2 separate regions of the Homo sapiens genome follow, and region 1 is linked to region 2. The links come from fine-mapping of genetic effects on gene expression. A gene starts in region 2. The other region holds a variant in brackets. All regions are shown on one strand. Distances are between the middles of the regions.

Region 1 (5,371 bases), 110 kb before region 2:
TATGGTTTTTTTCTTTTTTTTTTTTTTTTTTTGAGATGGAGTCTTGCTCTGTCGCCCAGCCTGGAGTGCAGTGGTGCAATCTCAGCTCACTGCAAGCTCCGCCTCCCAGGTTCACGCCATTCTCCTGCCTCAGCCTTCCGAGTAGCTGGGACTACAGGCACCCGCCACCACACCCGGCTAATTTTTTTTGTATTTTTAGTAGAGACGGGGTTTCACCACATTAGCCAGGATGGTCTCGATCTCTTGACCTCATGATCTGCCTGCCTCGGCCTCCCAAAGTGCTGGGATTATAGGCGTGGGCCACCGTGCCCAGCCTGACCTTATGTTTTAAAATAAATTAAAAGAAGAAAAGAAAAATACATTTCTGGGGCTCTTCATTTCTTCCTGTGGATTTGAGTTTCTGTCTACTGTCATTTTCAGTGTGAGGGGTTTCCTTGAGTATTCCCTGCGTTTAGGTATATGCTAGTCAGGAATTCTCTTTTTGTTTATCTGGGAATGATTTTCTTTTGCCTTTTGTTTTGAAGTATAGTTTTGTTGAATATAGAATTATCAGTTGACAGTTTTATTTTTCTTTCAGTGTTTTGAATAAATCATTCATCTGCCTTCTGGCCTCCATTGTTCCTAGGAGAATCTAGCCATTAATTCTATTGTTCCCCTGTACATAATGAGCTGTTTTTCACTTGCTCCTTTAAAATTTTCCATTTTCCTGGCACGGTGGCTCACGCCTGTAATCCCAGCACTTTGGGAGGCCAAGGAGGGTGGATCACGAGGTCAGGAGATCGAGAACATCCTGGCTAACACGGTGAAACCCCGTCTCTACTAAAAATACAGAAAATTAGCCAGGCGTGGTGGTGGGTGCCTGTAGTCCCAGCTACTCGGGAGGCTGAGGCAGGAGAATGGTGTGAACCCGGGAGATGGAGCTTATAGTGAGCCGAGATTGTGCCACTGCACTCCAGCCTGGGCGACAGAGTGAGACTCTGCCTCAAAAAAAAAAAAAAATGCCCTTTTTGAATTGTTTTCAGCAGTTTTACTTTCACTCGCGTCCGTGTGAAGAGACCACCAAACAGGCTTTGTGTAAGCAATAAAACTGTTTATTTCACCTGGGTGCAGGCGGGCTGAGTCTGAAAAGAGTCAGCGAAGGGAGATAAGGGCGGGGCTGTTTTTATAGGATTTGGGTAGATAAAGGAAAATTATAGTCAAAGGGGGGTTCTCTGGAGGGCAGAGTGGGGGTCACAAGATGCTCAGTAGGGGAGCTTTTGAACCAGGATGAGCCAGGAGAAGGAATTTGACAAGACAATGTCATCAGTTAAGGCAAGAACAGGCCATTTTCACTTCTTTTGTGGTGGAATGTCATCAGTTAAGGCAGGAACCGGCCATCTAGATGTGTACGTGCAGGTCACAGGGGATATGATGGCTTAGCTTGGGCTCAGAGGCCTGACATTCCTGTCTTCTTATATTAAGAAAAATAAAATGAAATAGTAGTAAAGTGTTGGGACAGTGAAAATTTTTGGGGGTGGTATGGAGAGATAATGGGTGATGTTTCTTAGGGCTGCTTCCAGCGGTATTAGGGGCGGCGTGGGAACTTAGAGTGGGAGAGATTAAGCTGAAGGAAGATTTTGTGGTAAAGGGTGATATTGTGGGGTTGTTAGAAGAAACATTTGTCGTGTAGAATGATTGGTGATGGCCTGGATACGGTTTTGTATGAATTGAAAAACTAAACGGAATAAGAGAAGGAGAAAAACAGGTATTAAAGGACTAAGAATTGGGAGGACCTAGGACATCTAATTAGAGAGTGCCTAAGGAGGTTCAGCATAGCCTTGCCAGCAAAGATTATTTATTTACTTCAAGAGTTAAGAGTGGCAGTTTGGGGATAGCACGAGGAGATATCAGCTGTGATGGCTTGGAGAAACTGTGTAAACTGGCAGTGTAAACAAGAGCAGGGCATGCATGAGTAGTTGAGAACGGTGAATAGGAGTATGACTAGACAGAAGATAGTAGGGATGACAAGTTATTTGGGGGCACAGTCTAAGTTGGTCTGGTGTCTGGAATGAGACTGGGGCCTAATAAAAAGGAGTGTCTATACAGGAACTTAAATGGGCTGTATCTTGTAGCATTCTGAGGACAGGCCTGAATTCTGAGAAGCGAAAGTGGTAAAAATATTGTCCAGTCCTTTTTAAGTTGGTGGCTGAGGTTGGTGAGGTGTGTTTTAGTCTGTCACTGAATACTAAGAGCCTGAAAAAATGCTTGGCTGATTTGACAAATAAAGGCTGGTCTGTTATCAGACTGTATAGAGGTGGGAAGGCTAAATTGAGGAATTACGTCTGACAGAAGGGAATGATAAGGCTAAACTGAAGAATTATGTCTGACAGAAGGGAAGAAATGACTGTGGTGGCCTTCTCAGACCCTGTAGGAAAGGACTCTACTTATCCAGTGAAAGTGTCTACCTAGACTAAGAGGTGTTTTAGTTATCTTACTCGGGGCATGTTGAGTAAAGCTAATTTGCCAGTCCTGGGTGGGGGCAAATCCTCGAGTTGATGTGTAGGGAAGGGAGGGGGCTTGAATAATCCATGAGGAGTAGTAGAATAGCAGATGGAACACTGAGAATTTATTTCTTTGAAGATAGATTTCCACAATGGAAAGGAAGTGAGAGGTTCTAAGAGGCAGGCTAGTGGCTTGTACTATAGCATAGCCTGCCTTTGCTGGTGTGTGGCGATTAGGCCTGGTGGAACTGCCATCAATAAATCAAGCGTGATCAGGGTGAGGAACAGGGAAGAAGGAAATGTGGGGAAATGGGATGAATGTCAGGTGGATCAGAGAGATGCCGTCATGGGGGTCAGGTGTGGTATC[T/C]GGAATAATGTGGGAGGCCGGATTGAAGTCCGGGCCAGGAACAATGGTCATTGTGGGACTTAACAAAGAGTGAGTACAGCTGAAGGAGCCAGGGAGCAGAAAGTATATGCGTCAGGTGTGAGGAAGAAAATAGATTTTGGAAATTATGAGAGCTGTAGAGAGTGAGTTGAGCATAGTTTGTGATTTTGAGGGCCTCTAAAAGTGTTAAAGCAGCGGCACGCGCTGCACGGAGACATGAGGGCTAGGCTAAAACAGTAAGGTCAAGTTGTTTGGGCAGAAAGGCTACAGGGTGCGGGCCTGGCTCTTGTGTAATAATTCTGACCGAACTAACCATGCCTAGGAAGGAAAGGAGTTGTTGTTTTGTAAGGGATCGAGGTTTGGGAGATTAATCGGACACAAGCAGCAGGGAGAGCACGTGTGTTTTTATGAGAATTATGCCAAGATAGGTAACAGATGAGGATGAAATTTGGGCTTGACTGAAGTAATGGGGTCTGTCTGTGAAGCCTTGAGGCAGTACAGCCCAGGTAATTTGCTGAGCCTGATTGGTGTCAGGGTCAGTCCAAGTGAAAGCAAAGAGAGGCTGGGATGACAGGTGCAAAGGAATAGGAAAGAAAGCATGTTTGAGGTCCAGAACAGAATAATGGATTGTGGAGGGAGGTACTGAGGATAGGAGAGTATATGGGTTTGGCACCACAGGGTGGATAGGCAAAACAATTTGGTTGATAAGGCGCAGATCCTGAATTAACCTGTAAGTCTTGTCTGGTTTTAGGACAGGTAAAATGGGGGAATTGTAAGGAGAGTTTATAGGCTTTAAAAGGCCATGCTGTAACAGGCGAGTGATAACAGGCTTTAATCCTTTCAAAGCATGCTGTGGGATGGGATATTGGCATTGAGCGGGGTAAGGGTGATTAGATTTTAATGAGATGGTAAGGGGTGCATGATTGGTCGCCAAGGAGGGAGTAGAGGTATCTTATACCTTTGGGTTAAGGTGGGGGGATACAAGAGGAGGATGCAAAGGAGGCTTTGGATTGGGAAGAAGGGCGGCAATGAGATGCAGCTGTAATCCAGGAATAGTCAGGGAAGCAGATAATTTGAAGTGTCTCGGCCTAATTAGGGAACTGGGCAGGTGGAGATAACTAAAAGGAGTGCATAAAAGAATATTGTCTAAGTTGGCACCAGAGTTGGGGAGTTTTAAGAGGTTTAGAAGCCTGGCTGTCAATACCCACTACAGTTATGGAGGCAAGGGAAACAGGCCTTTGAAAAGAAGGTAATGTGGAGTGGGTAGCCTCCGTATTGATTAAGAAGGGGACGGACTTACCTTCCACTGTGAGAGTTACTTAAAGCTTGGTGTCCGTGATGGTCTACGGGGCTTCCGAGGCAATCGGGCAGCATCAGTCTTCAGCTGCTAAGCCGAGAAGATCTGGGAAGGAGTCAGTCAGAGAGCCTTGGGCCAGAGTTCCAGGGGCTCTGGGAGTGGCTGCCAGGTGAGTTGGACAGTCCGATTTCCAGTGGGGTCCTGCACAGATGGGACACGGCTTAGGAGGAATCCTGGGCTGCGGGCATTCCTTGGCCTGGTGGCCAGATTTCTGGCACTTGTAGCAAGCTCCTGGGGGAGGCGGTTCTGGAGGAACGCCTGGCCACTGCGGTTTAGGCGTTTGGAGGTTCTTTTGTGCTGGAGATGTGGCTGAGGTTTGTCTCACAGTGGAGGCAAGGAATTGCAACTCAGAAATATGTTGCTACTTGGCTGCCTCTATTATTGTACACCTTGAAGGCGAGGTTAATTAAGTCCTGTTGTGGGGTTTGAGGGCCGGAATTTAATTTTTGGAGTTTTATTTAATGTCGGGAGCAGATTGGGTAATAAAATGTATATTGAGAATAAGACGGCCTTTTGACATTTTAGGGTCTAGGGCTGTAAAGTGTCTCAGGGTTGCTGCCGAACGAGCCATGAACTGGGCTGGATTTTTATATTTGATGAAAAAGAGCCTAAACACTATCTGATTTGGGATAAAGGAAAAGGAGCATTAACCTTGACTATGCCTTTAGCTCCAGCCACCTTTTTAAGAGTAAATTGCTGGGCAGGTGGGGAAGGGCTAGTCACGGAACGAAACTGTAAGGGGGACCGGGTGTGAGGAGGGGAGGCGATAAAAGGATTATAGGGTGGAGGAGCGGAGGCTGAGGAAGAATTGGGACCTAGCTCAGCCTAGCAAGGAGGGGAGAGGTCAGATAGGTCTGTAGAAAAGGAAGATTAGAAAGACTCAGTGACACTTGGGGTTGGGACTGAGGGGACAGGTGGGAGGGAAAGAAGGAAGATTTGGGACGAGTTGCATTGGGAACAGAGGCTAGGGAGAGCCTGATGTGTAAAAGAATGCCTGGATGTCAGGCACCTCACACCATTTGCCTATTTTATGATAAGAATTATTTAGATCTTGTAGGATGGAAAAATTGAAAGTGCTGTTTTCTGGCTATTTGGAACTACTGTCAAGTTTGTATGGGGGTCAAGCGGCGTTTCAGAAGAAAATTAGAT
Region 2 (5,344 bases):
GCAGGAGGTACTAGAATCTGGCTCTGGCTGAGACACGAAAGCAGATGGTATTAGCGGACTCTGTGAGCCACCCTTTTCCCTCAAACCTGCCCGGCCCCAGAGGAAGGGAGCTGGGAGGTAAGAGAATGACACATGGCAGCAAGGCCTGGAGGTTCTGGGGAGTCCTGGTTTCCACCCAGGGCCTGAATGGTGCCCCAGCCTCACCCTGTAGGCAAGGGACACTATAACCACGAACAAAGCCCACACCCTAACTCTCGGGAGGGAGTGAAACCCGGCTCGCAAAAGGAGTCACTTGAGGAGTGGCAGAAGACAGGAAGGGAGAGAAAAGGAAGGTCCCCCCACCCTTATCACCTGAGAAAAAAGGGGGAGGGGTTTATTTTCTCCAGCACCTTCAGCTGCAGAAGACAAAGCCTAGACATTCTCAAAACCACCACTGTGGCCCCTGCTCCCTCCCAACTTTCCAGGTCTCTTGGCAACCTTTTCCAACCTGGCACTGCCTCAGGCAATAAATTATTGTTGAGACTCCAGAACAGATCTCACCTTCCCCTCAAAAAGTGAATTTATGCCAACTATCGCAACCTGTCCATCCTGCAGTAGGTGGGGCCACGGATAAGGACACCCCTCCCACCAAGCCACTGCCATGCCCCTCAGTTACTACGGATGAGGAAATTCAAGCAACGCTGGTAATGGACCCAAGGTTATGCCCGGCCCCACCTCAGGCTGCCTTGGAACAGCTGCTCCTTCCACCCTTCCCACCCTTTCCCCTCCAGCCTGGGCTAGGCTGCCTGTGCCAAGCTCCTGGCCACCAACTCGCGCCCTCGAGAGGCTTCCAGTCACTCCCCACTCTGCCAGGTCACCACTCAAAGCCCTGTAGCCTGTTCCTGAAAAATCTCCACCAAACTCACTCTCCCAAACCTTCAGAGCCCTGTCCAAAGTCCCAACTCTACACACATCCCTCTTTATTAACAGAATCACCGCAGGGAACCCTCGGATCCCTTTGCATTTTGCAGATAACAAAACTGCCCGGAGAGTTCAAGGGTCTTGTCCAAGGCCACAGAGCGAATCAGTAACAAATCTGGAAAGAAAATCCAGATCTCCAGATCCCACGAAATGCTTCCAACTTCAAGTACCTCCCACCCATTTCACGCACAAAACTTCTGAACAACCCCTTCCCCCCACACACACCCACTCACCACGCTCCTTTCTTTAGCTCTTCCTGCACACACTCAGAGCTCCCCCCTCAACCACACTGGATTTATCCCCCCCCCACAGACACTGACACCTCGCTCGGGGATCCCACTCCACTTCTGATCACCTTTTCACTGCTGTGGGGCCCTACCAAGTTGCCCCCCCCGCCCCCCAAAAAAACAGTGCCACCTGAACACAGTCTCTGCTTCAGGATCCCTTCACCTACCTCCGGTCTCTCCAAAAAAGACACAATTCTTCCTGGACACTCTCAACGCTTCCTCCCCAAACTCATTCTGCCTGCACGACACACACACGCTCTCCAGTCCCGGGACTGCACCTCCAGGAGCCAGCACCCCCTCCTCAAATTCCTTTCTCAGTCTATCCATTACGCATTCCCTTTCTAATGAGACTTTCATTTTCCTAAACGAACCTCTCTCCCATTATCCACCATTCCAGCTCACCCTCCCTCCCACCGATCTCACCTTCTCCCTCTACACTTCCTCATTCTCTCCAACGCTTTAGCTTTTCAGCTTCCCATCAATTCTTTAGAAATCCCTCCCCAAATTATCCCCACTCTCCGTATCCCCTCTACTTCGGCTTCTCCATCCCTCATCAATTCCTCTTATTATTCCTCCTATCTCTTAATCTTCTCCCCTTTGGAACAGGGCACCACAAATAAATCTCACCCCCTTCAAAAACGTCTGATTCACGGGCCCCTTAACTTCTTCCTTCCGCACCCCACCCTCCTCAGACCCCCAGTCCTGGCACCTCTACCCTCCTCACACCCTAAGCCCATGTCTTTTCATGCTCAATTCTACCCTTAGCCCCTGTTTTCATCTTCCCAGCCTCCCTAGTCTTCCCACCCGTCTTCAGACCCCACAATCTCCACTCCATCCTCACACTTGATTCTTCATCCCCTTTATAACTCCCCCAACCTGAGGCTCCCCCAATTCCAATCTCCTTCAGATCTTTCTGCTCTCCAAATAACCAACCCCTCCACACTCAAGCTCCTCCTCACACTTCCCAGACCCAGAAATTCCCTTCTCAGCCTCCCCTGATTCTCCTCCCAGCACCCCCAACCCATGCTCCGACCCTTCAAGCCCGCCTCGGATCCCAGTTCCATTTCAGCCTGCCCAGTCATCTCCTCGGTTTCCCCTAATGGCACGCCCAGACCCTCCAAATCCTTCATCAGCCTTCCCGATTCCTTTTATTTGACTCCCATATTCCCCACCCAGCCGCCAATTCTCTTTTCAGATTCCCAATTCCTTCCTCTAGCTCGGCGATTCCTCCTCAGGACTCCAATTCCCTTCCCGGACCCGCCAATTCCTTCTCGGGACCCCCCCGTTCCCATCACAGACGCTCCAGTTACCTTTCAGGACCTCCCACCCCTCCCCGGGCCCCCTCAGAAAAGCCCCTCCAGCCCGTCCGGCCCGCGGGCCGCGCACCTTGCGCTGCTGCTTCTCCCAGGCCGGGTCCAGCAGCAGGTCCCGGTCCCAGTCGTCCTCCTGGGCCATGTAGTCGCCCATGCTGCCCCCGCCGCCAGCGCCATTGCCCGCGCTGCTGGGGCCGTACTGGTACGACTGGTTCGCCGCGTGGTAGTCCACCATTCCGCCGCCTCTCGCTCGCCCACCAGCCTGTCCGCTCCCGCCTCAGCTCCCGCCCCTCTGCCCGAGCCGCCGCCGCTACCGCCGCTTCAGCTGCTTCAGCCCGCCCTCCGCCCGCGCCTGCGCACTGCCCGCCGCGCCTGCGCACAGCGCCGAGGTTGCCGCCCTCCCGCGCGCGCGCGCCTGCCAAACCAGAAAAGGCACCAAGGCCGCGCTCCGGAGCTTGGCGCCTGCGCAGAGTCCCGCTTCCTGGCCGCCCGACTCAGCCCGGGGGCGAGCCGCGCCCCCTCTCCGGCGTGAACGCGCGCGTCGTTCGCGTATGGGCGGGGCCAGATCATGAATGATTCATAAGGGCAGGCCCCGCCATCGGACCTGAACCAGCTCAGGCTTGGAATGCACTGCACCGGGTTCCCATTCAGCGACACAAATTCAACAAATATTTATTGAACACCTATTCTGTGCCAGACTATGTTTTACGCAGGCACTAAAAACAGAAAAAAATCCCAACTTTCATGAAACTACCTTCTAGTAAAGGAAGCCACATACACACAAATCTACTTTTATTTTTATTATTTTTTGAGACGGAGTCTCGCTCTGTCTCCCAGGCTGGAGTGCAGTGGCGCGATCTCGGCTCACTGCAACCTCCGCCTCCCGGATTCAAGCAATTCTCCTGCCTCAGCCTCCCGAGTAGCTGGGAACACAGGCATGCTCCACCACACCCGGCTAATTTTTGTATTTTTTTAGTAGAGACGGGGTTTCACCATGTTGGCCAGGCTGGTCTTGAACTCTTGAGCTCAAGCGATCCTCCCGCCTCAGCCTCCCAAAGTGCTGGAATTACAGGCGTGAGCCACCGCGCCCAACCAACACACAAATTTTTTTTTTTGAGACGGAGTTTCGCTCTTGTTGCCCAGGCTGGAGTGCAATGGCGTGATCTGGGCTCACTGCAACCTCCGCCTCCCAGGTTCAAGCTATTCTCCTGCCTCAGCCTCCCGAGTAGCTGGGATCACAGGCATGTGCCACCACTCCTGGCTAATTTTGTATTTTTAGTAGAGACGGGGTTTCTCCATGTTGGTCAGGCTGGTCTCAAACTCCCGACCTCAGGTGATCCGCCCACCTCGGCCTCCCAAAGTGCTGGGCTTACAGGCATGAGCCACTGCGCCTGGCCTCAACACTCAAAATTTTAAAAAATATGTAGACAGGCACAGGGGCTCACACCTGTAATCCCAGCACTTTGGGAAGCTGAGGCGGGAGGATGGCTTGAGCCCAAGAGTTCAAGGCCAGCCTAGGCAACATAACAAGAACCTGTCTCTACAAGAAATGTAAAAATTCACTGGGCATGGCTGTGTGCACCTGTAGTCCCAGCTACTCAGGAGGCTGAGGAAGGGACATCACTTGAGCCCAGGAGTTCCAGTCTGCAGTGAGCTGTGATCACACCAATGCACTCCAGAAGCGAAATCCTGTCTCAAAAATATACATAAAAGTAAAAAATAGGTAGTATTGTATATTCCAAGGTGTTGAGTATTTGGAGAAAAATCAAGCATGGGCTGGAATGCAAATAAACTACTCAGGTAGGCTTCATGGAGAAGGCAGACATTTAAACAAAGGTGCGAGCCACTGCATCAGGAAGCATCTTAAATTTAAATATTCAGCCAGGCACTGGTGGCTTACTCTTGCAATCCCAGCACTCTGGGGAGTCAAGGCTGGAAGAGTGCTTGAGCCCAAGAGTTTGAGGCCAGACTGGGTAACATAACAAGATCTCATCTCTACAAAAAAATGTTTACATTAAAAATAAATGGCCGGGCGCAGTGGCTCATGCCTGTAATCCCAGCACTTTGGGAGGCCGAGGCAGGCAGATCACGAGGTCAGGAGTTAGAGGCCAGCCTGGCCAACATGGTGAAACCCCGTCTCTACTAAAAATACAAAAATTAGCCGGGCTTGGTGGCATGCACCTGTAATCCCAGCTACCCAGGGGGCTGAGGTAGGGGAATCACTGGAACTCGGGAGGCAGAGGCTGCAGTAAGCCGAGATCGCGCCACTGTACTCCAGCCTGGGCGACAGAGCAAGACTCCGTCTAAAATAAAAATAAAAATAAATAAATAAATATCCGGCCAGGTGTGGTGGCTCACGCCTGTAATCCCAGCACTTTGGGGGGCCGAAGTGGGCGGATCACCCCAGGTCAGGAGTTCAAGACCAGCCGGGCCAACGACTCCGTCTCTACTAAAAATACAAAATTAGCCAGGCATAGTGGCACATGCCTGTAATCCCAGCTACTCAGGAGGCTGAGGTAGGAGAATAGCTTGAACCTGGGAGACGGAGGTTGTGGTGAGCCAAGATTGCACCATTGTACTCCAGCTTGGGCAACAAGAGCGAAACTCCATCTCAAATAATAATAATAATAAATATCCAAAATAGAGTTCCTGATCTTCCCCCCAAGCTTGGTCATCCCATCCCACAGTCATCCCTCTTCAATTCGTGCACCTCCAGCCTTGCAGTTGCTGAGGCTACAGACCTTGCGGTCATCCTTAATGCCTCTTTGTCTTCACAACCCCATC

Evidence for each region. PIP is the estimated chance that this variant, and not a neighbour inherited with it, causes the effect. A credible set is the group of variants that fine-mapping cannot tell apart.
Region 1: its variant is the best candidate, but not a certain one, in a credible set for the expression of ACTN4 in whole blood (INTERVAL, PIP 0.67).

The regions. Positions count from the first base shown.
Region 1 is chr19:38,750,958-38,756,328 of GRCh38, reverse strand. No RefSeq gene overlaps it. Among named protein-coding and RNA genes, the nearest start is that of CAPN12, 9.2 kb to the right of the region's middle. The variant T/C (reference allele first, on the strand shown) is at 2,848.
Region 2 is chr19:38,645,197-38,650,540 of GRCh38, reverse strand. ACTN4 (actinin alpha 4) reads right to left here and starts at 2,892. Exons shown (of 21, transcript NM_004924.6): 1 at 2,634-2,892. The coding sequence starts at 2,795. RefSeq lists enhancers at 210-289, 918-1,212 and silencers at 918-1,212, 1,171-1,369, 2,553-2,632, 2,863-3,052.